4 linked regions of the Homo sapiens genome follow. The protein of the gene in region 1 purifies or fractionates together with the protein of each later gene. This does not show direct contact. Each region holds a gene or a part of one and is shown on either strand. Other genes may lie near its edges.

Region 1 (4,986 bases):
CTGCTATGAATATTCATGTACGATAATAATCCCCATTTAACAAGGGAGAAGTGAAGCAGAATACTACATGGTACTGAGGAAGAAGCACTGGACTGGGAGATCTAGGGTCTTGTGCTCCAAGCCAGCCTCTGCCTTTAACTGGCTGTATGACCCTGAGTGAGGCATTTTGCTCTCTCAGTCTATTCTGCCGTTTGTAAAATGAGAGGTGGACTCTGAGATAAGCTACAAAACCCCTTCCGATGACACTATGCTGAGATTTTAAGTAGACACTACTGGTTAGCAGCAGACCAGAGATGGAACCTAAAACATCTGTATTCTCTTTCCTCTGGACATGCTACCTCCCATAGCAGAGACGTGCCCCCAACCAGGGTGACAACTGACCCCCTTTCAACATTCTGAATTATGCAAAGATGTATGCAAGTTTCCTTTCACTCTATTTATAGTGGTTCTATTGGAGCAATCCTACAAAAAAGATGAAAGATGCAACGAAGCAAGGACTCAACTTCACTTTCAATGCATAAAGGTCATTGGAAATAACATAAGGCCAGGTGTGGTAGCTCATGCCTGTAATCTCAGTGCTTTGGGAGACCGAGGCAGGAGGATCACTTGAAGGCCGGGAGGTCGAGAGCAGTCTGGGCAACAGAGTAAGATCCTGTCTCTATAAAAAAGTTTTTTAAAAATTAGCCAGGCATGGTGGCACACTCCTGTAGTCCTAGCTACTAGGAAGGCTGAGGCAGGAGGGAGGAGGGAGAATTGCTTGAGCCCAGGAGTTTGAGGCTATATTGAGCTATGATTGTGCCTCTGCACTCCAGCCCGTGTGACAAAGTGAGGCGCTGTCTCAAAAACAAAACAAAACAAAAGAAAGAAAGAGCATAATAAAATGAAGAGTGTAGCTGTGGACCTAACAGATCTTAGGTTCAAATCCCAGTTCTGACACCTATTTTCTGTCTGACTTGACATTTCTTTTAAATTTTTTTTTCTTTTCTATACCTCTTACGTCTCTTCATCTTTTTAATTTTTTTAAAAAAATTTTTATTTGTTTTGAGACAGGGTCTGGCTCTGTCACCCAGGCTGGAGTGTGGTAGCATGATCTCAGCTCACTGCAACCTCTGCCTCCCGGGCCCAAGAGATCCTCCCATCTCATCAGCCTCCCGAGTAGTTGGGACCACGGGCATGCACCACCCACACACACCTGGCTAATTTTTGCATTTTTTTTTTTTTTTTTTGTAGAGATGGGGTTTCACCATGCTGCCCAGGCTGGTCTCGAACTCCTGGGCTCAAGCGATCTGCCCACCTCAGCCTCCCAAAGTGTTGGGATTATAGGCATGAGTCACCATGCCAGACCCTGACTTGACACTTCTAAACCTTAGTTTCCTAATCTGATAATACCTACCTCTGCAGGGTGAGGAGGAACAGAAGCGCTTGCATGTAAAATGCCTGACACTGATCCTATTAAATAATATTTATTGAACATTCTAACAGTTTACAAGTGTCATCTCACAGACTCCTCATAATAATCCTATGAGACAGGTGCTATTGTTATCCTCATCTTACAGATGCAGGATCTGAGGCACAGAAAAGTGAAGTTGCCAAAGCTACACAGTTCTTAGACAGAGAGTCAACCTATACAGTCTGACTCCAGGGGCCAGGCCATTGGCCACTAAATAATAATTACTGGGCCGGGTGTGGTGGCTCACACCTGTAATCCAGCACTTTGGGAGGCCAAGGCGGGCAGATCACTTGAGGTCAGGAGTTCCAGACCAGCCTGGCCAATGTGGTGAAACCCTGTCTCTATTAAAAATACAAAAATTAGCCGGACATGGTGGCAGGCGCCTGTAATCCCAGCTGCTGGGGAGGCTGAGGCAGGAGAATCACTTGAACTCAGGAGGCAGAGGTTGCAGTGAGCCAAGATCGAGATCATGCCACTGCACTTCAGCCTGGGTGACAGAGTGAGACATTGTCTCAAAAAAAAAAAAAAAAAAAAAAAAAATTACTGGCCAGGGAGCAGCGGCTCACACCTGTAATATCAGTATTGATACAATTTCAGGAAGCTGCTGAAACTTTGTCTCTTACCATTCCTTAGGGTTAAGCTGCCTTGACTCTGCTGATCTCAAACACAAATTTAAAGAGTGCCATTTCAAGGTCATGGACTAAGTTGGTACAAGGACAGTTTCTGGGAAAGCTTTCGCTGGTAGGATAGACTCATCACCAAAGCATCTTCAGGAAACTTCTTAGCCATCTTTGAGGCTCCTGGCTTAAATAATCCCATGTAGGACTGCTTGAGGTTTTCTCTGCAGAAGAGAGCTGCTTCTAAGCAATGCTTTACTTTCTGGGAAGCTTTAGATAAAAACTCACCTTGATGTCTTCTCCCCTGCCCAGTGGGCTCCGTATTGCTGTTTGAGCTTTTAAGAGACAGGGTCGCCTGGGTGCGGTGGCTCACGCCTGTAATCCCAGCACTTTGGGAGGCCGAGGTGGGTGAATCACCTGAGGTCAGGAGTTTGAGGCCAGCCTGACCAACATGGTGAAACCCTGTCTCTACTAAATACAAAAAATTAGCCAGGCGTGGTGGTGCATACCCGTTATCCCAGCTACTCGGGAGGCTGAGGCAGGAGAATCACTTGAACCCGGGAGGCAGAGGTTGCAGTGAGCCGAGATTGCACCATTGCACTCCAGCCTGGGCGACAGGAGCGAAACTCCGTCTCCGTCTCAAAAAAAAAAGAGACAGGGTCTAGCTCTGTTCCCCAGGCTGGAATGGAATGTAGCACTATCACAGTTTACTGCAACTTTGAACTCCTAGGCTTAAGGGATCCTCCTGCCTCAGCCTCTTGAGTAGCTAGGATTACAGGTGCAAATCACCATGCCTGGCTACTTTTATTTTTATTTTTTGTAGAGATGGGGGTCTCATCATTTTGCCCAGGCTGTTCTTGAAGTCCAGGCCTCAAACAATCCTCCCATCTCACCCTCCCAAAGTGCTAGGGTTACAAGTGTGAACCATCTGGCCAGGCACGGTGGCTCATCCCCGTAATCCCAACACTTTGGGAGGCCAAGGCAGGAGGATCACTGGAGGTCAGGAGTTGGAGACCAGCCTGGCCAACATGGTAAAACCCCGTCTCTACTAAAAATACAAAAATTAGCCAGGCGTGATGGCACACGCCTGTAATCCTAGCTACTCAGGAGGCTGAGGCAAGAGAATCGCTTGAACCCAGGAGCCTGAGGCTGCAGTGAGCCAAGATTGCACCACTGCACTCCATCTTGGGTGACACAGCGAGACTCTCAAAAAAAAAAAAACAAAAAAAAACAGTGTGAGACATCACACCCAGCCACTTGTTTGAGCTTTGTGAAAATTTTTTCTGGATGTTTTCAGAACTTTGTTTTCCAGTGATCATAGCTAATTTTCCTGTCTGCTCTTAGGCCTCACAATTACCTTAAGATAGTGGAAGGAAACAGAGAAAAGGGAGCATATTTTGATAATGCTATACTCTCTCACTATTTAAAAGCATCTGCAGTCTTTAACTTGCATCCTGACAAATCCTGCCACAATTCAAAATATCTCTTGTAGAGAAGGCTCTGGAGTTTCATCCTGTAACTCTACTACTAGCTGCAAGGTCAAGGAAAACTAAACCATTCAAGTTAGAAATGTTTCCTTTCTAACTCAGTGACAGTAGTGTTATATCCAGATGTGTAACTCAAAAGGGAACCAGGTAGGCCATCAGCACCCAAACACTCAGGCCTCAACTATGAAGCTCCCTGACCATGAATGCCTAGCTCCCATTCTCAGGAAGGCCCCCTAAGAGGTTCAAGGATAAGCAGTTTTATAGAATTTGGGGGGTCATGAATAAGGACAAAATTGTACAAAAGTCCTGATCCAAACACTGCCCTCAACAGCCTCTGGAGAGCTCCCTGGGCAAGGTCTGATCCTGTTCTCCACCCCATCTCCAAGAAAATGGGGTTAATACCTCCCCAGATGGCTATACGGAGGATTAAGGGTCATTATTCTTGGCACTGAGCTCTGTTACAGCTCTAGCAGTTGTGACCTTGTATCCTAAAAGAAGATAATAAATACAAAAATGCCAACGGTGACCCTCAAATCTGGCTCTGCAGTAGTAGCTGAGAATTTTCTTTGCACAGGGCCTCTGACACTGCCTCCTATACACTCTGGCCTTTTGACTGCATCCTCCCCTTATTCAGGCTTAAAGTTTTTTTGTTTTTTTTTTTTGAGATGGAGTCTCACTGTCACCCAGGCTGGAGTACAGTGTTGCGATCTCAACTCACTGCAACCTCCACCTTCTGAGTTCATGCGATTCTCCTGCCGCAGCCTCCTGAGTAGCTGGGACTACAGACACCCGCCACCACGCCAGGCTAATTTTTGTATTTTTAGTAGAGACAGGGTTTCACCACCTTGGCCAGGCTGGTCTCAAACTCCTGACCTTGTGATCCGCCCACCTCAGCCTCCCAAAGTTCTGGGATTACAGGCATGAGCCACTGCGCCCAGCCCAGGCTTAAAAGTTTTTAAGGTATTAGTCTTCAATGCCACAAAGCCCTTCAAGGAGTCAGCAGCTATTACTTAATAGCTCAAAGAATGGGCCCTAGAACTCTCAGAGTTACACATAGGCCTGAATTTACCCAGAAGAAGCCAACTAAGTGGTATTCCTTTACATCCAAGCCCTGGCTCTTGAGGGCAATCAGTGAGGTCTAGTAAAAAGGATATATTTCATCATTTAGTCCTCAAAAACCCACTAAAAAGTAGGTACTACAATAAGCCTCATTTTATAGGTGAAACTATAGCTCTGAGAGGATACATGATTGGCCCTAGGTCACAGAGCTAAGGAGGAGACATGGGTTCAAATATCAGCCCTACACTACTAGTTGTGTAACCTCCAGCATATTCCTTAACTTTAGTCTAGAGTCTCAGTTTCTCATTTGTAAAGTGGGGATAATGGTAATACCTTCCTTCCAGGGGAGCTCTGAAGATTATAAGAGACATTA
Region 2 (5,659 bases), about 140 Mb from region 1:
TCTTTCAACTGTGCTCGAAAATTTTTATGATAAAATATTATGGAATAAACACTATAGGAATGACAAGGAAGATGCAGATTTGAGAAAAGTTTATGAAAGACATGGCATTCTTTTTTTTTTTTTAAGAGACAAGTCGATAGAGGAGTGCAATGGCATGATCACAGCTGCAACCTCGAACTCCTGGGCTCAAGTGATCCTCCTGCCTCAGCCTCTGGTGTAGCTGGGACTACAGGTGTGCACTACCATGCCCAGTTAATTTTTGTACTTTTTGTGGAGATGGGGGTCTCATTATGTTGCCCAGGCTGGTCTCAAACTCCTAGCCTCAAGTGATCCTCACTCTTCTGCCTCCCAAAATGTTGGGATTACAGGCATGAGCCACCCCACTGGCCTTTGGCATTCCTTTATCCTCCTCCTCTTCTCCTTAACTACCTAATATCCCCATGCTAACCCTTAGCTGTAGGTTCAACTTCCAAATTCCAATGGGCTATAAAGAGTTCTACAAAAGTCCATGATGACTAATAAATCTATCTAGTAGAGAAAAGACCTTTTGGAGAAGAGGCTAACTCTAGGACCACCTAAAACTCACCCACTCCATAGCTATTTGGTAAGGCACCCCTTTAGGAAACTTCACCCAAATGCCTGCTTCTGGGTACCAGGTAGTGGCCACTCTCCCCATCTTTGTCTCCTGTCTGAGCTGCTACCGAGTTTGATGTTAGATGGTGACATAAAATACAGTAATTCCTAGATATATGCGGAGGGACTGGTCCCAGGACAGCCTACATGTAACCAAATCCACACATGAAGTCCCACAGTCAGTCCTGAGGAAACTGCACAAATATTGTGTTTTCCATCTGCCCTTGGTTTAAAAAAAAAGCTGCATAAAAGTGAACCTCACAGTTTGAACCAGTGTTGTTCAAGTGTCAACTTTAATTTAAAAGTGAAAAAAGTTTGTTTTCTCTGGTATCCTTTTTTTTGTTTTGTTTTGTTTTTGTTTTTGTTTTTTGACACAGGCTCTGGCTCTGCTGACCAGGCTGGAGTGCAGTGGGGAGATCATGGCTCACTGCAGCCTCGATTTCCCTGGCTTGAGAGAAAATTATTTTTTTCAAAATAATCTTCAATTTAAGGTAATTTACTAAGTTTCAAAAGATAATGCTATTGACGTAAATTCTGTTTTAGATTGTAGGCCCCATCAGCTCATTGATACTAGTCCCAAGTTCACAGGAGAAGAGACTGGAAGTTACTAGGCTAGTCCTGCCTCTCTCAGGTGTGTCCCAGCAAAACTTTTCTTTCCAGTTTCAGCGCTTTAGAAACCTTTTCTCTTCAAACACTAATACAGGGCCTAGACTGTACCAGCACTGTTCTGAGAACTTTACATACACTAATTCATTTAATTCTCACAAAAATCCTGGGATGTAATTGCCATTATTATTCCCATTTAACAGATAAGAACACTGAAGCACAGAGAGATTAAGTAACTTGCTCAGGGACCTGGATGTGAATGCAGAAATCTGGCTCCAGAGGTGGAGTCTGAAACTGCCTTTCTAAGTGACTGATTGCCAATCTCTGGAAAACCGTTCAATTGAAGATATTAATGGATCAAAATGTCAGTATGTTTTCAGATACCCTAACTCCATAGGAAGCTCAGTGTATGGGATGAGATACTGTGGTTTAGAAGGGAATTGCTTTTCCAACGGAGGGCACCCTTCAGATAAGCCCCTCAAATTGCCCTTCACTAGAGAGTCGCACGAGGACAGGCCTGCTAAAAAGGATGGCGCTGGGGGGTTTCCAAGACAGGAAATATCTAAAGCCAGCGGCTGACATATTATCTTGGCGAACGGGAGAAGGGAAAAAGAACCCTCATTTTTTGGAAACACAAGTTTTTAGCCTGGATAATGGGTAAATGACATTAACTCTTCGTTCCACACTAATCTTTCAAGCTTGTTCAAATTTTGCTTCTCAAACCTGGGCCATTCCTTCTTATCTAATCTGCCTATTATTTCCTTCAAGCTTTTTATCCCTTCTGAAAATAGGTGGTAGCATACCAAATTAAAATACAGAACAGCCTGTTTCTTTCCCCCAGGGTCCACTAGGGCGCGTCGGAGAAAGGGTTAACCGGGCGGGTGGGAGGGAAGGTCGGGCTCACACCTTTCGCAGAGACCTCGGGCGGCGGCGGGGCCCGGGAGGGGCGGAGGCTGGGGCCAGACGCCTCGCCGCCTCCGCCTCGGCGAATAGCAGCGCGCTGCCCGCCCGGATTGGAGCAGCAGCATCACGCTGACCTCTGCCTGGGATGTAAACCGGACCAGCCGCTGCGGGCAAAGGAAGGCTCTTGGCTCCTTCGGGAAACCCAGCCCCGTCACCGGGCTCCGAGCGGCTCGCAGGCGAGCGACAGCGGCCTCAGCCCCGGCAGCGCCCAGCGGCGGCTGCGGAAAGCGGAGGGAGTCCGACGCGGGCGCGGGCGGGGAGCGTGCGTCCGTTCGCACAGGCAGCGGGAGGAGGGGCGGCGCGAACCATGGCCGGGGACAGCGAGCAGACCCTGCAGAACCACCAGCAGCCCAACGGCGGCGAGCCCTTCCTTATAGGCGTCAGCGGGGGAACAGCTAGCGGCAAGGTACGGCGGGGCCCGGAGCCGCGCTCCCTTCCCGGCTTCTGTCCCTGGGCGGCGCATGTGGCCGGCGGCCGCGGGCCGTGTCAGTTGCGGCAGCCACCGCGTGGCCCGCGCGCCTCCGCTCCCGGCCGCGCTCCAGCGCCGAGTGCGCCCCGCGCGGCCTGGGGGCGCTGCGGCGGGGGCAGGCGAAGACTCGGGCCTTGGGGGTTCCGGGGGTACGCGGCCACGATCGCAGGGCGGGAGTGCTCCTCCGGCTTTTCTCCCCCCGCGTTAATAACTCGTGGCCGGGGTCCTATGGGGGAAGGGCAGGGAAGCGGATGCTTATTGTTTTGCAACTCCAGTGTCGGGGGAGAGGGCTTTCCGCAGGATCCCCCACTAACCCCCGATGGACTCCCTCAAGCCCCGGTCTGGCACAGACGTGCTCGCCCCGCGGCGCAGCCTGGTGCCGAGGGCGGAGCGAGCCGGGAAGCGCGGCCGAGAGGGCGAGGGTGGCGGGAACGCGCGAGGCGGCATCCCGGGGAAGGGGAGCCCAGTGTGGGGCTGCACGCAAGGGCTGGGGATTACAGGGGTTTCCGGGTAAAAGTCTGAGAGCCAAATAGGTGCCGTGACATCAATGAAACGATAATAGTAGGGGCTTCTGTTTTTTAAGGTTATAAGAGGAAACGTGGTCGGCTTCAATGAGAAAGTTGTACTGGCTCCAAGCTCTTCGGTGTCCAGGACGTACGCGTCTTGGATCCACGGAAGGGGGTCATCGTATGGGTGTCTGACCCTCTTAGGAGCCTGTTTCCTTTGTTTTATCCGCAAGGCAAGGAGAGACAAGGGAAATGACTTCCTAGCTTTACCCGGGGTTTTTTCTGCAGGTGGAGAAGGGTGGAGTCCTCCCAGATGGTTCTTTCTTTGCTCCCCTAACAGCCTTTAAGATGTGGCTACTTGTTTTTCCCACCGTTTAACACCCTCCAACTTCATTTGGAGCACGGGTTCCTCAAGGGATCCTGAGAGCTGGGTGCTGGGTGCTGGTTTGGAGAGGCAGGATGATGCTTCTCCCGGCTGGGGAGAGCAGAGCAGGAAGGCTGGTTGGCGCCATGAGGAAAGAGCCACGAGGTTTTAGCTCCCGAACCGACTCGTCAGTAGCCCCTCCTCCATGTTGGTTTTACATTTTTCCCTCCTGGTCTGGACTACTTTAGCGCAAGGAGCCCAGCCAGACACGGCGGCTGGCGCTGCTGGACTTCTTTATTGATGAAGTTGATCTCGTCCGTAGCTCCCGGGGTTAGGAATCGGCCTGCTTTAGGTCCTGAAGTTTCTGTTCTGTGTGCTCCCTGGTTGAAGGCTTTTAAAAAAATTTGTAATTTTTGAGTATGTTCTTTACTATGACTTATACTAGTAATTCAAAGCAAAACCAGAATGCTAGCCCTTCAGGAAGCTTTACCTGTTCTTTTAGAATTATTCTTGCTCTTCTGGCATATTCCTGTTGGATTGGGAGCATTTTTTGTTGTTGTTGTTCATGGCTGTTTTCCCAGCCCTCCTAGCACAATGCCTGCCTGGCATGTAGTGGGGTCCAAATTTTAAGCTGAAGTCCAGTCCTCCTAAAGTGGGGAGGAGGCTTAAACTTGCATATGAGCTTTTAGAAACAAAATGATCTTGGTAATCATCTGAATAATTTAGTTACCACGAGGGTGAAAACTGCGACCCTAAAAGGTGAATAACTCTGTTATTGTTCTTCTTGTGTGTTTCTCAGTCGTCACCTGTTCTAACTTGATAATCAAGCTTTTGGTGTTACTTGGGTAAAGTGAGGGATGGGATAGTGGTGAGCCAATGTGGGAGTAGCTAATTCTCTGCTATTTTTATCCAGGAGGAAGAGTGTAGAAACTCTCAAGAAAGGAAGGGTCCGTTTTTCTGCAGTTTTCAAAGCATGTTGTACATTTTTATTTATTAATTTAATTTTTGAGACAAGGTCTCGCATTTCCACCTAGCCCAGAGTAAGTGGCACTGTCACAGCTCACTGCAGCCTCAGCCTCAACCTGGAGTAACTGGGAGTACAGGCTGGCACTATCATGACTGGCTAATTTTTTTGTTTGTTTGATTTGTTTTGTTTTTGAGACAGGGTCTCACTCTTTTGCCCAGGCTGGAGTGCCGTGGTGAGATCTTGGCTTACTGTACCCTCCACCTGTTGGGCTCAAGTGATCCTCCCACTTCAGCCTCCAGAGTAGCTGAGACTACAGGCTTGCACCATCATGCCCGACTAATTTTTTTTTTTTTGTAGAGAAGGGGTTTTGCCATGTTGCCAGGCTGATCTCAAATGCCTAGACTTAAGTGATCCGCCCGCCTCTGCCTCCCAAAGTGCTGGGATTACAGGTGTGAGCCACTACCTGGGCTGGCTTTTTAATCTTTATTTTTTTTATTATTTTTTTTTTTTGAGACAGAGTCTTGCTCTGTTGCCCAGGCTGGAGTGCAGTGGCATGATCTCGGCTCACTGCAAGCTCCGCCTCCCGGGTTCATGCCATTCTTCTGCCTCAGCCTCCCAAGTAGCTGGGACTACAGGTGCCCGCCACCACGCCTGGCCAATGTTTTTGTATTTTCAGTAAACACGGAGTTTCACTGTGTTAGCCAGGATGGTCTCAATCTCCTGACCTTGTGATCCGCCCGCCTCGGCCTCCCAAAGTGCTGGGATTACAGGTGTGCGCCACCACGCCGGCAATCTTTATTTTTTGTAGAGACTAGGTCACCATGTTGCCCAAGCTTGTTTGTACATTTTTGACATACGAATGATTGATAGTTTGTCATCCTTTAAGATTATTGATATTTTTGTTATTAAAAAAGTCCAAGACTGGGCCTGGTGGCTCACACCTGTAATCCTAGCATTTTGGGAGGCAGAGACAGGAGGATTGCTTGAGCCCGGGAGTTTGAGGCCAGCCTGGGCAACATAGTGAGACCCCATCTGTATAAAATGAAAATTGTGGTGGGTCGAGAAAGTTATTTTGACCTATGTTTAAAACCAGATTCTCAGCTTGGGCAACATGGTGAGACTTGTTCTCTACAAATAATAAAATTATCCAG
Region 3 (4,986 bases), on another chromosome or scaffold:
ATGGAAATGTATCTAAAATTTATAAGCATTTTACTTTGGAGAGGAGCGGAAACTCCTCAGGGTTCGTGTTCTGACAGCAGCTAAGAGCCACTGCTTCAGAACTGTGGCCGCCACAGTGTGGTCCCAACTGGCACCATCAATGCCACCCAGAACATGTTAGAATGGAAAATCAGAAGGCCCAGCGGGGTGGCTCAGGCCTATAATCCCAGCACTTTGAGAGGCCAAGGCAGGCGGATCACTTGAGTCCAGGAGTTCTAGATCAGTCTGAGCAACGCGGGGAAACTCCGTCTCTACAAAAATTAAAAAATTAGCCAGGTGTGGTGGTGTGCACCTGTAATCCCAGCTACTTGGGAGGCTGAGACACAAGAATCACCTAAATGTGGGAGGTCAAGGTTGCATGAGTCATGATTGTGCCACTGCACTCCAGCCTGGGTGACAGACTGAGACCCTGCCTCAAAAGAAAAAGAATAGGAAGTTCAGAAACCCTGGGTGTGGGGCCCAGCAATCTGCATTTAAACAATCCCTGCAGGCAATGCTGATGCAGCCTAAGTTCAAGAGCTGCTGTTCTGGAGGCAGCAGTAAGGGCTTCCATCCAGCATCACGGTCACACTGCAAAGCACCTGTCCTCGTTTTGCCAGAATGCAGGATGCAGATGCCAGTCCCCACTCCCACACCCAAGGCAGACTCTGCTAACAGACTATGTTCCTCTTTCCTGCTGTTTCCAGACACAGCATCCTCAGGCTCTGGTGAGTCCTAGCCTGTCAATCAGAGTCCCCTGCAGGCAATATTCATCTGCCATCCCTGGCCTGGTCCTCTGCCTAAATGATAAACAGTGAGTGGCTGGTGAGCATCGGCCTCACCAGGAGCAACACCTCTCCAGTGGCACTGGCAAGGTGAAAAGAAAGTCAGAACCAACTCTACAGAATGCTCTGCAGACAACCCAGTCCCCTACAAAAGAAATTCTAAGTGTGAGCCTGACTCATATCTGCTCACCATTTTATCGAGCTCTCAGGCTGCAGCCTAAATACTTTAACCACACTGAGGATGGCCTGTGTTTTGTAGGTGTCATGATGTGAGGCCTGGTGGATGTGAAGAGGGTAAGAGCGGGGAGGAACAATGTGCAGATGACTAGCTAATCACATCCTATAGCTCTGGGTGTCTGAAGGGTTAGAGGAGCAGTTCCTAAAGGGTCGACGTAGACTAGATAAACTCCCAGGGTCCATCTCATTGTTAGGAGCTGTTGTAGGTCTAAAAGATGACACAACTAAAAGCAGTGAAGCTGTTTCTCCCACTGGGCTGGAGTAATGACCCCCCCCCCAATCCTCATGGCTCCCCCAAAATGCAAAAATCCAGCTTAAAACCACACCACTGTGCCCTGCAATCAGCCAGCTTTCCATGTGGAGGGGCCTACATTCCAGCTAGGTTTATGAAGCAAGGTAATAAGTGAAGGGCTTGCCATTTCCCGAATGGTGGCGGCAGCAGCATGCAGGCGGGAATCTGGCTGTCCCCCATTCCACACTCCCCAGGCCCTTCTAAGGGGTGCTGAGCACTCACCATCCTCCTCCGGCAGCACTTGACCCACGTCAACCCAGCCCCACGCCACTCTGCTGAGGGCATCGACCACAGACTGGTGACCCCAGCTCCTTCCTCTACCTCCTCCTGCTGCACCCCACTCACAGCAGCTCCAGTAATGACAGTGTGTACCATCGGAGGTCTTATACCTTGATAGCAACAGGGTAAACTGTGGCTCCAATTTCAAAACTTCCCTTTTTGAACATCATCACCGATGTATTATTGATGCAGGTTCCTAAAATGCAGGAGACAATAAAATGCTATTTCTGTTGGCCCTTTACCCCAGATATTAGGCGTTTCTTAAAGACTAAGTATAATAGTCAAAATTCTTCTAATGGTTCCTCCAGTAAGATACATCTGTCATCTCCCTAACTTAAAAACAAACACTTAACAGAGACAGGCAAGATGGTGCCTCCGATTCTCTTTCTACAGGACCACTTTCCCTGATTCATACACACAGCCTAGATAAAGCAGAGACGCGCAGTGGCCTTAGGAGGACACCATGAGCTCTGTGAGGAGCTGAAACATTACAGAAGAAATTCCTGCATTTGGGGAGTTCACACTATGGCATTCTTAGTTCAAATTCTGAACTTACCTGAGTTTTTAGTCCTACTTCCAACCTAAAGGGGACCTAACATTATTCAGTGAAAACAGATAACCCCAACAAGGGCTGAGGGCCTTGGTTCCCAGGAAACATCAGCATCACACTCCTGCACTCCCCACAGAAGCCCTTCGTGGCAACCAACCCCTTCTTACCTTCTGGGAAGATGAGGATAGGCAGCTTGCTTTTATCTTGCACATGTTCAGTCAGTCTTTCAAAGAAGAAAATAAAATAAAGGGTCAGACAACCTTATACACATCGTCAAAATATGTTTATAAATAACCTATTTATTTGTGACACTAGTTTCGATTATAAAAAGTTAACAAGCATAACTGTATCCTTTTAAACCCATAATCTAATGCTCATCAAGAAAAAATGTATATGGATAGAGAAAAATCAGGTTACCATTTAATTCACAGAACTGTTCAATTCTGTGCGAACATCGGAGCACCAATGATGCCACTCAACCTGGGGGCCACCTGAAAGAGACACCTGCCACAAGGCCTGGGCATGGCCCCCTCAATAAACCTGTGTCACTAGACTATGTAACAGTTGTGAGGCTGGGCCCAGCCCTGCTGGCTCGATGCTCTGTCCCTGAGATGTAGCAAAGGGAGTTAGGGGAGAGTTCATCTGTCTCTATGGAAGATAATCTCAACTGTCTTTTCTTATGTGTTATTTTTTGAGACAGGGTCTCCCTGTGTTGCCCAGGCTGGAATGCGGTGGTGCAATCATAGCTCACTGAAGTCTCACCCTCCCTGGCTCAAGCGATCCTCCCACGTCAGCCTCCCAAGTAGCTGGGACTACAGAAGCGTACCACCACGCTCAGCTAATTTTTAAATTTTTTGTAGAGATGGGGGTCTTCCTATGTTGCCCAGGCTGGTCTCGAACTCCCGGGCTCTCAAAGCACTGGGATTACAGGCCTGAGCCACCATGTGTGGCTTGGTCTCAACTGTCTTGATGTCTCTGTCTGCTGCAAATCTCTTTGCATTACTTACAGCAGATTCACCTTCTTAAAGTTTGAAAACAGGGCAGTACTTTGTTCCACTGCCTTAGGTTTCTTTTTATTTGTGATAAATGAATTCATTTTGAGGTTTCAAATAGCAGTAAAAATTCGTATTTTGTTTATTATGATGGGTACAATGAATTAAAAAAAGGTTAAGAAACATTATTAACTTGGTAAATAATACTAGGGTTTCTATACTTTTTTTTTTAAGACAGAGTCTCATTCTATCGCCCAGGCTGGAATGCAATGGCGCGATCTCAGCTCACTGCAACCTCTGTCACCCTGGTTCAAACTATTCTCCTGCCTCAGTCTCCCTAGTAGCTGGGATTACAGATGCCCGTCAATAATTTTTGCATTTTTAGTATTTTGTATTTTCACCATGTTGGTCAGGCTAGTCTCAAACTCCTGACCTCAAGTGATCCGCCCACCTCGGCCTCCCAAACTGCTGGGATTACAGGCATGAGCCACCACACCCGGCCACTTTTAAAATTTCATGTTTTAGGAAAAAATTATTATGAAAGCAGTATAGGCTTATGATAGAAGGCACGTAACTGCACTGTGGAGGGATAACTACCCTGAAACCTTTTCAGCATTCTAACTGGCCAAGCAGAACAGCAGTGTTCTGTCCATTACCTCTTAGCCACCAGGTGGCGATCCTTCACTTCCGAGCGCTCAAACCAGACGTGTGGGCAGGCCTTCACCATGGCTCTCTGAATCACACCCATGAGTCCCCCGTGCACTTGACCCACCTAAGCGCAGGCACAGGACTCATTAGTAGTGAAGCCATCTTCACACGAATCTCCCCACTCTAGGAAGAACCACATCTCACAAAATAAGCAGTCCAACTTCTCACTTCTAACGCTTGCCGGCTGAAGGTTGCTCACTGCCAAGAAACCACTACCAAGACTCCCCAAATCTTAAACTTCTCCTTTTAATCAGTAATACTAGAAATAGGTAATTAAAAACATAACTGAAACCCCTAAGACAAAATACTAAAATACTAAAGTAGCGCAATTCCCTGTGTAAAACTGCCCCTCCCTGGGCAGATTCTCAGATGCCCTGGACACAGTCCTTGCCAGCAACTCCCTCTGCCCCTGCTGGTCTGCCTGACTGCCCTTGGCATCCTCTCCAGCCACACTCACCAATCACTCTGCCCAGGGTATCTCCTATCACAGTCCCACAGAGCCCCCACAGTGACAGTAAGGTGGGGGCCTGGCCCACGCATAAATGTGTTTATGTGAAGGGTCCAGGAGCCTCCTAGCCCTGACCACTCTAAAGCAGGAAGTCTTGCCTCAAGAACGCACCGGAAAGAGCTCTTACCATGGCATAATAGCCATCGCTGGCCAAGATGATCACATCGATCGGTGAGGTATGATTGGCCACACAGATGCCACCATTTCTTGGTCTGTTTTCCCTGGGTTTAAAATGTATGCAAAGCAACCAAAATTAGTGTGAAACAGTTCATGTAACACACCTCTCACCTCACATGCTTCATCTGCTCTAACTAAAAGCTCAGAAGTGTCTTCCCATTTGGCTAAGTATAGGTGGGTGGTGTTTCCTGCAGCGCCATCTCCCTTCCTATCAATACAAAGCGCTCTCACCTGTCATGGTAGGTGATGATGGCTGTCAGCGCTCGCACGCAGATCCGGTAACACATTAAGTGAACATGTTTACTCATGAACTCCTTAAACCTGCAATAACAGGACAAGGATTCTGGGTTTTATTTTACATACAGGAAGACAGAAAGAGTTACTGACTTCAACAGCTCAGCAGTCCTTTATAACAGCAAAGTGCTTGTATAGACATCAGC
Region 4 (4,986 bases), about 92 Mb from region 1:
ACTGACTTTTCAAGGTGCAATAAAGTTATCTTCCAGGAAACATTTGCCAACAACCCTGAACTGTCACTCTCCCTACACCCCACCATTTTTGTTGTGATCACCAATATAATATGTTTCATATCTAGTTGTCCTCTCTTAGACCTGCAGTTTTGGTCTCCTTAGTTATATTTTCTATGCCTAATGCAGGGATTTTATATTAAAACTTTATCTACTCTATACCATATATCCATAGTACCAGCCTCACCAGCACATAAACCATTTATTGAGCACCTGCTGGGTACTAGGCATTACACCAGTTGCTTTACATTATTCTCTTCACAACTCCAAGGAGAAGGGGTATAATCATCCCCAGTTTCCAGATAAAGAAACAGAGGCTTTGAGAGGTAACCTGCCCAAGGTCACTCTTACAGATCAAAAACCAGCCAAGAACTGGAAAGTCATTGCCACTGGCTAACTCTGAGACTGTAACTGAAGAAGAGTTGGTAGACCTGCCAAGATGTCAAGAAGATAGGGCCAGAGCCAAGGCCATGGCCAGTTAGGTGCAAAAACCAAACTGTAAAATCCCTTGGAGAGATTTACTAGTAACAATAGCTACCATTTTTTGAGCAAGTACTTTACATCCAGCACTGTGCTTCACAACAATCCTAAGACAGATATTACAATTATCCCTATAGTACAGACAAGCAAACTGACACTTAAAGAATTTAGAGAACTTGCTGAAGTCACATAGCTAGGATATGGCAGAAGCTGGAATCAAGTCCAAATCTGTTGAGTTCCAACTACCTTCCAAATACAGCATTTAGACACCTAAACCAGGAGAGACATTGCCAGAAATCCTGTGGCTTCTCCAAGATGGCAGAAGCTCCCTAACAAAGGTCCCTGGATCTTCTGGTGACCTGCTCCTCCCAGCCAGCCTGCCTACTGGGGGATAATAGAAATAGGCACAAATGCCTCTGTCGAGAAGAGCAAGTTGCCTGTGGCCTGTAGGCAAGCTCACAGTTGATACTTCACAATGAAGTGTTTTATACACTTCCATTGAATAAATGAATTCAGTGATGAGAGGCCGGTAGAAACCACCCTCATCAGTCCCCCATCCTCACACCTTCACCCTCTTTCCCAAATAACTTTAACACTTCACATGCCTGAAAATTGCTCATCAGAAATCCCTTCCTTTGACTGTGATAAGGAGGCATAAGGTCTACTTCTAAGAGTGCTCAAGGATTTTCAAAAATCTTATTAAAAGAAGTTGAAAAAAAGCAGGAAAAACGTTCAGAAATTGACAAATCAGTCAACAGAACTAAATAGACACTAGACAAACAGAATATGTGAGAATTTAGAAAATAAAAAGCAGAACTCAAATTGATGCGGAAAGGAAGAACTAAACAAGAAATAATGTTATGAAAATTCAAGAAGAAAAATAATAGATTGCTACCTCACTTCAGATTTTTAAAAATCCAGATGAATTAAAGAATTTTTAAAAATATAAGCATTAAAAGAAAATGTCAGGGGATATTTTTATGACTCGGATTGGGAAAACCTTTCATAAGCAAGGCACAAATCTTAGAAACTCTGGAAGAAAATATTGACAAATCCAGTTACATTCAAATTTTAAACTTCTGCATGGAAAAAGATCCCATAAACAAAAGCAAGTAGTGGTCCTGATATGTGGAGAAAACTCCTTTCACCATATGTAACAGAACAAGGATTCATCACCAAAAGTGATAGAATTCCTACAAATCAACTTTTTTTTTTTTTTTTTTTTTTTTTTTTTGAGACAGAGTTTCACTCTTATTGCCCAGGCTGGAGTGCAATGGCGCGATCTTGGCTCACTGCAACCTCCGCCTCCCGGGTTCAAGCGATTCTCCTGCTTCAGCCTCCCGAGTAGCTGGGATTATAGGCATGCACCACAAATCCACTTTTTTAAAGGATAAAGAGCACAATAAAAAATAGATAAATATATAAATAGGCAATGCACAGAAGAACTACAAAGTGGTCACTAGTTTCACTAGTTTATAGACTCTTCAACGCTAGATATCAAGGAAATATAGATTTTTAAATATGATATTTTTGGGCATCATTTTGGCAGAAAGAAAATGAATAATATTCAGCATTGGTGAGCATGGAGGGAAACAGGAGTGTACACTGCATGACCTTTTTGGAGGGCAACTGGGCAGTGGGTGGGTAAGCACATTTTTAGTGGTCATTTCTTTGCAGCCAGCACTGACACCTTAGAAAATTGGTAACACACTGAGGAAACACAACCTCCTTTCAAGTGGTCAGCTCAGGACCAAAAGTCAAAGTTCAACTGACAAGAAGCAGGCATGGAGCAAGAGGAGAAGGGACCACCCAGAGTCATCATCTTATCACCTTGTCTCTCTAGCATCAAGTTCCAGAGCCCACATCTCAGGCCCAGTCCTGCTCCAGAGGCTCTACCAATCACTCCCTTGGGCCTTAAGGGTCCATCCTTCTTCAATGTTCTCTCCAAAGCTGCCAAAATGCTCCCCAAACCTTGCAAACCTGCTCCCCACAGGCAACACTAGCTGGAGAGCATGCAGACTCCCCAAAGTCCACCCATTCTTGTAGCCCCTGAACAAGCACAGAAACAGCACTATTGTTTCTTTCATGAGCATGGACTCTCTGGATGGATCTCCCTTGTAAAGATTTATGCTGTAGTCTCTTCACTTTTCCCTCAAACCAGCCTTCTTTGGTGCCAGGGAAACTAAGAGTCCCCAGTCAGACTCCTACAGATGAGCATCAGGTCTCACCTCTCCCAAGGGCAGAAACTGTCACTCAGGAGACCTTGGTCCCACATTAGAACCAGACATCCCACATCAGTCAGAGTTAATGAGCTTCCAAGGCCTCTTACAACCTCAACTACCCACTCTATCCACTCATTCAATCAGCACATATTCACAGACAGCCTGAATCCAACCTACCTCCTGCTGGACCCTCAAAGCCCCTGCACCCAAGCCCCTTCCCTCCTCACGCCACAACGCACCCCCTTCAAAGACTTTGCCCCAAGCTGTCTGCTCCTGTCCTCTACTTATGGAAACCACAGCCCTAACCAAATGCACCCATCTGCTCACATCCTCTGCAGTTTGCGATTAAAACTTCTCCAGTGTCCAGAGATCCTCCCCTCTCTTTGTCATTCCTTGGGTGAGGAAGCAAGTCTCTCTCTACACAGCACCAAATTCTGATGTTCACTGCCCTCTGCGTGTGGCTTCTGTGTCTGCACTGTGGCGGGAACAGGCACTTCCCACACTTCCTACAAGTCCTCCCGCTCCCCTGTCCTTAGCTGCTGTTCAGCTAGAAAACTGCTTGATTTATGGCTGTTCGAGACAAACTGCTAACTCAGCAATGGGAATCCATTGCCATTCCTCAGGTTCACACATGCTTCCTTTCCCAAGGGGACAAGCTTGGCCTAGGAGGTAATTCTAGCATTGCCATGCCTCTGACTTAAATCATAGGGCAAGACAATGAAACTATCCAGGTCATGTTCCCCAGCTATAGGGAAGGCAGGTCTACCCTGTTTTGCACAAGATGTGTGATCCTGATTAATTTGATGGTTATTTAACTTTTGCAAACTAAATCCTTGTGTAAAGGCTGGGAACTTCCTATTTTAAAGAAATTTGAAAAGAAATTTGGCATGGAAAGATTTATTCCCTTCTTAATCTTTCTTCAAGTACTGATATGAAGGTATGGATGTGCTTCAGTAAATTAAATACCATTACCAGTGTTTAGTTTAGTGGTCCTGACCAGCAATGCTACTTAATGAAACAGAAGAAAATACCAGAATGCATCATATGTAAAAAGAGTAAGTATTATTTCATAAAATTTGTGTGTGTCTGTGTGTACACATATGTATGAGTGTTTAAGTTATGACATAAAACAAATTTCTTATTGTGGGTCACAGTCAAAGTTTAAAAGCCACTGATACATGGTAATATTATTTAAATATTTTCCGGCATATTAGGTATATTTAAGATGTGAGTTCCAAACAAGATGCTTTATTATTTTAAGCCAACGTTTTCCAAACTTTTTTGACTGAGGTTCATTGTAAGAAACACATCTTTGTTGGTGGAGGGGTGGGACAGGGTCTAGCTCTGTTGCCCAGGCTGGATTGCAGTGGCGAGATCATGGCTTACTGCAGCCTCAAACTCCTAGGCTCAAGCGATCCTCCCACTAGAGCACCAGGTTGGGAAGAGTGACAGCAACCAGGGCCTCAGCCCTCCACCCCATCCCCCAGTAGCTGAGACTACAGGCTTGTGCAAGATGCTTAGCTAATGTTCGTATTTTTTGTAGAGACAGGGTTTTGCCATGTTGCCCAGTCTGGTCTCAACCTCCTCAGTTCAAATGATCTGCCTCCTTTGGCCCCTCCCAAAGTGTTGGGATTACAGGCGTGAGCCACCGCGCCCGGCCAAGAAACACATTTTTAAGTTGTAATTTCATACTCACATGCCACACACATACAACTACACAACATAAATGAAACAAAATTCATGAAACAATACTTACAACCTTACTATCTATCTGCATTGCTGTCTGATATTTCCTACTTTGTTTTTTAAAATGCTCGTCATGACCCCTTAAACTGAACTATGACTTGCTCCAAGTCTGAAAAGCACCACTGAAAGGGCAGGGAGGAATGATTGTACTTCCTGACCAGGGGGTGAGTGAGAGGAGACCGCCTGCCCAGAATACAAGGCAGTGGGAACCAAGGCCAGGCCCGGTTCTAGCAACGCTGCCGAAGCTTCCTTCAGCATTAAAGAGACTTCAGTGGGGGAGGGCAGGAGACACTATGCCAGACACCTCTTCATGCAGAATAAAAAGGCATAGTGTAGAAATGAGGACCCTTCAGTGGGCTGACCAAGGAGATTAATTGGCATTCTGAACCAAATGTGTTGCAAAGACAGACAAGAAAGCTGAGCCCTCCCAAACAGTCCAAAAATGCCCAGCAGTCAAGTTAGCCAACAAACACTCCTCCTC

What was found. Proteins that work in one complex are often made in the same cells at the same time.
Region 2: the proteins of WDTC1 (region 1) and UCK2 purify together in Homo sapiens (affinity purification with mass spectrometry; one large-scale study listed by BioGRID and IntAct). This does not show direct contact.
Region 3: the proteins of WDTC1 (region 1) and GPAT4 purify together in Homo sapiens (co-immunoprecipitation; one large-scale study listed by IntAct). This does not show direct contact.
Region 4: the proteins of WDTC1 (region 1) and PHGDH purify together in Homo sapiens (affinity purification with mass spectrometry; one large-scale study listed by BioGRID and IntAct). This does not show direct contact.

What each region holds. Positions count from the first base shown.
Region 1 is NC_000001.11:27,240,203-27,245,188, reverse strand, and holds part of WDTC1 (WD and tetratricopeptide repeats protein 1), read right to left. Parts: intron 1-4,986. UniProt on the Homo sapiens protein: May function as a substrate receptor for CUL4-DDB1 E3 ubiquitin-protein ligase complex.
Region 2 is NC_000001.11:165,825,325-165,830,983, forward strand, and holds the start of UCK2 (uridine-cytidine kinase 2), read left to right. Parts: upstream 1-2,289; 5' UTR 2,290-2,509; coding exon 2,510-2,608; intron 2,609-5,659. UniProt on the Homo sapiens protein: Phosphorylates uridine and cytidine to uridine monophosphate and cytidine monophosphate. Does not phosphorylate deoxyribonucleosides or purine ribonucleosides. Can use ATP or GTP as a phosphate donor.
Region 3 is NC_000008.11:41,611,784-41,616,769, reverse strand, and holds part of GPAT4 (glycerol-3-phosphate acyltransferase 4 isoform 1 precursor), read right to left. Parts: intron 4,868-4,986; coding exon 4,778-4,867; intron 4,591-4,777; coding exon 4,497-4,590; intron 3,926-4,496; coding exon 3,810-3,925; intron 2,385-3,809; coding exon 2,329-2,384; intron 1,808-2,328; coding exon 1,722-1,807; intron 1-1,721. UniProt on the Homo sapiens protein: Converts glycerol-3-phosphate to 1-acyl-sn-glycerol-3-phosphate (lysophosphatidic acid or LPA) by incorporating an acyl moiety at the sn-1 position of the glycerol backbone. Active against both saturated and unsaturated long-chain fatty acyl-CoAs.
Region 4 is NC_000001.11:119,714,018-119,719,003, reverse strand, and holds part of PHGDH (D-3-phosphoglycerate dehydrogenase), read right to left. Parts: intron 1-4,986. UniProt on the Homo sapiens protein: Catalyzes the reversible oxidation of 3-phospho-D-glycerate to 3-phosphonooxypyruvate, the first step of the phosphorylated L-serine biosynthesis pathway.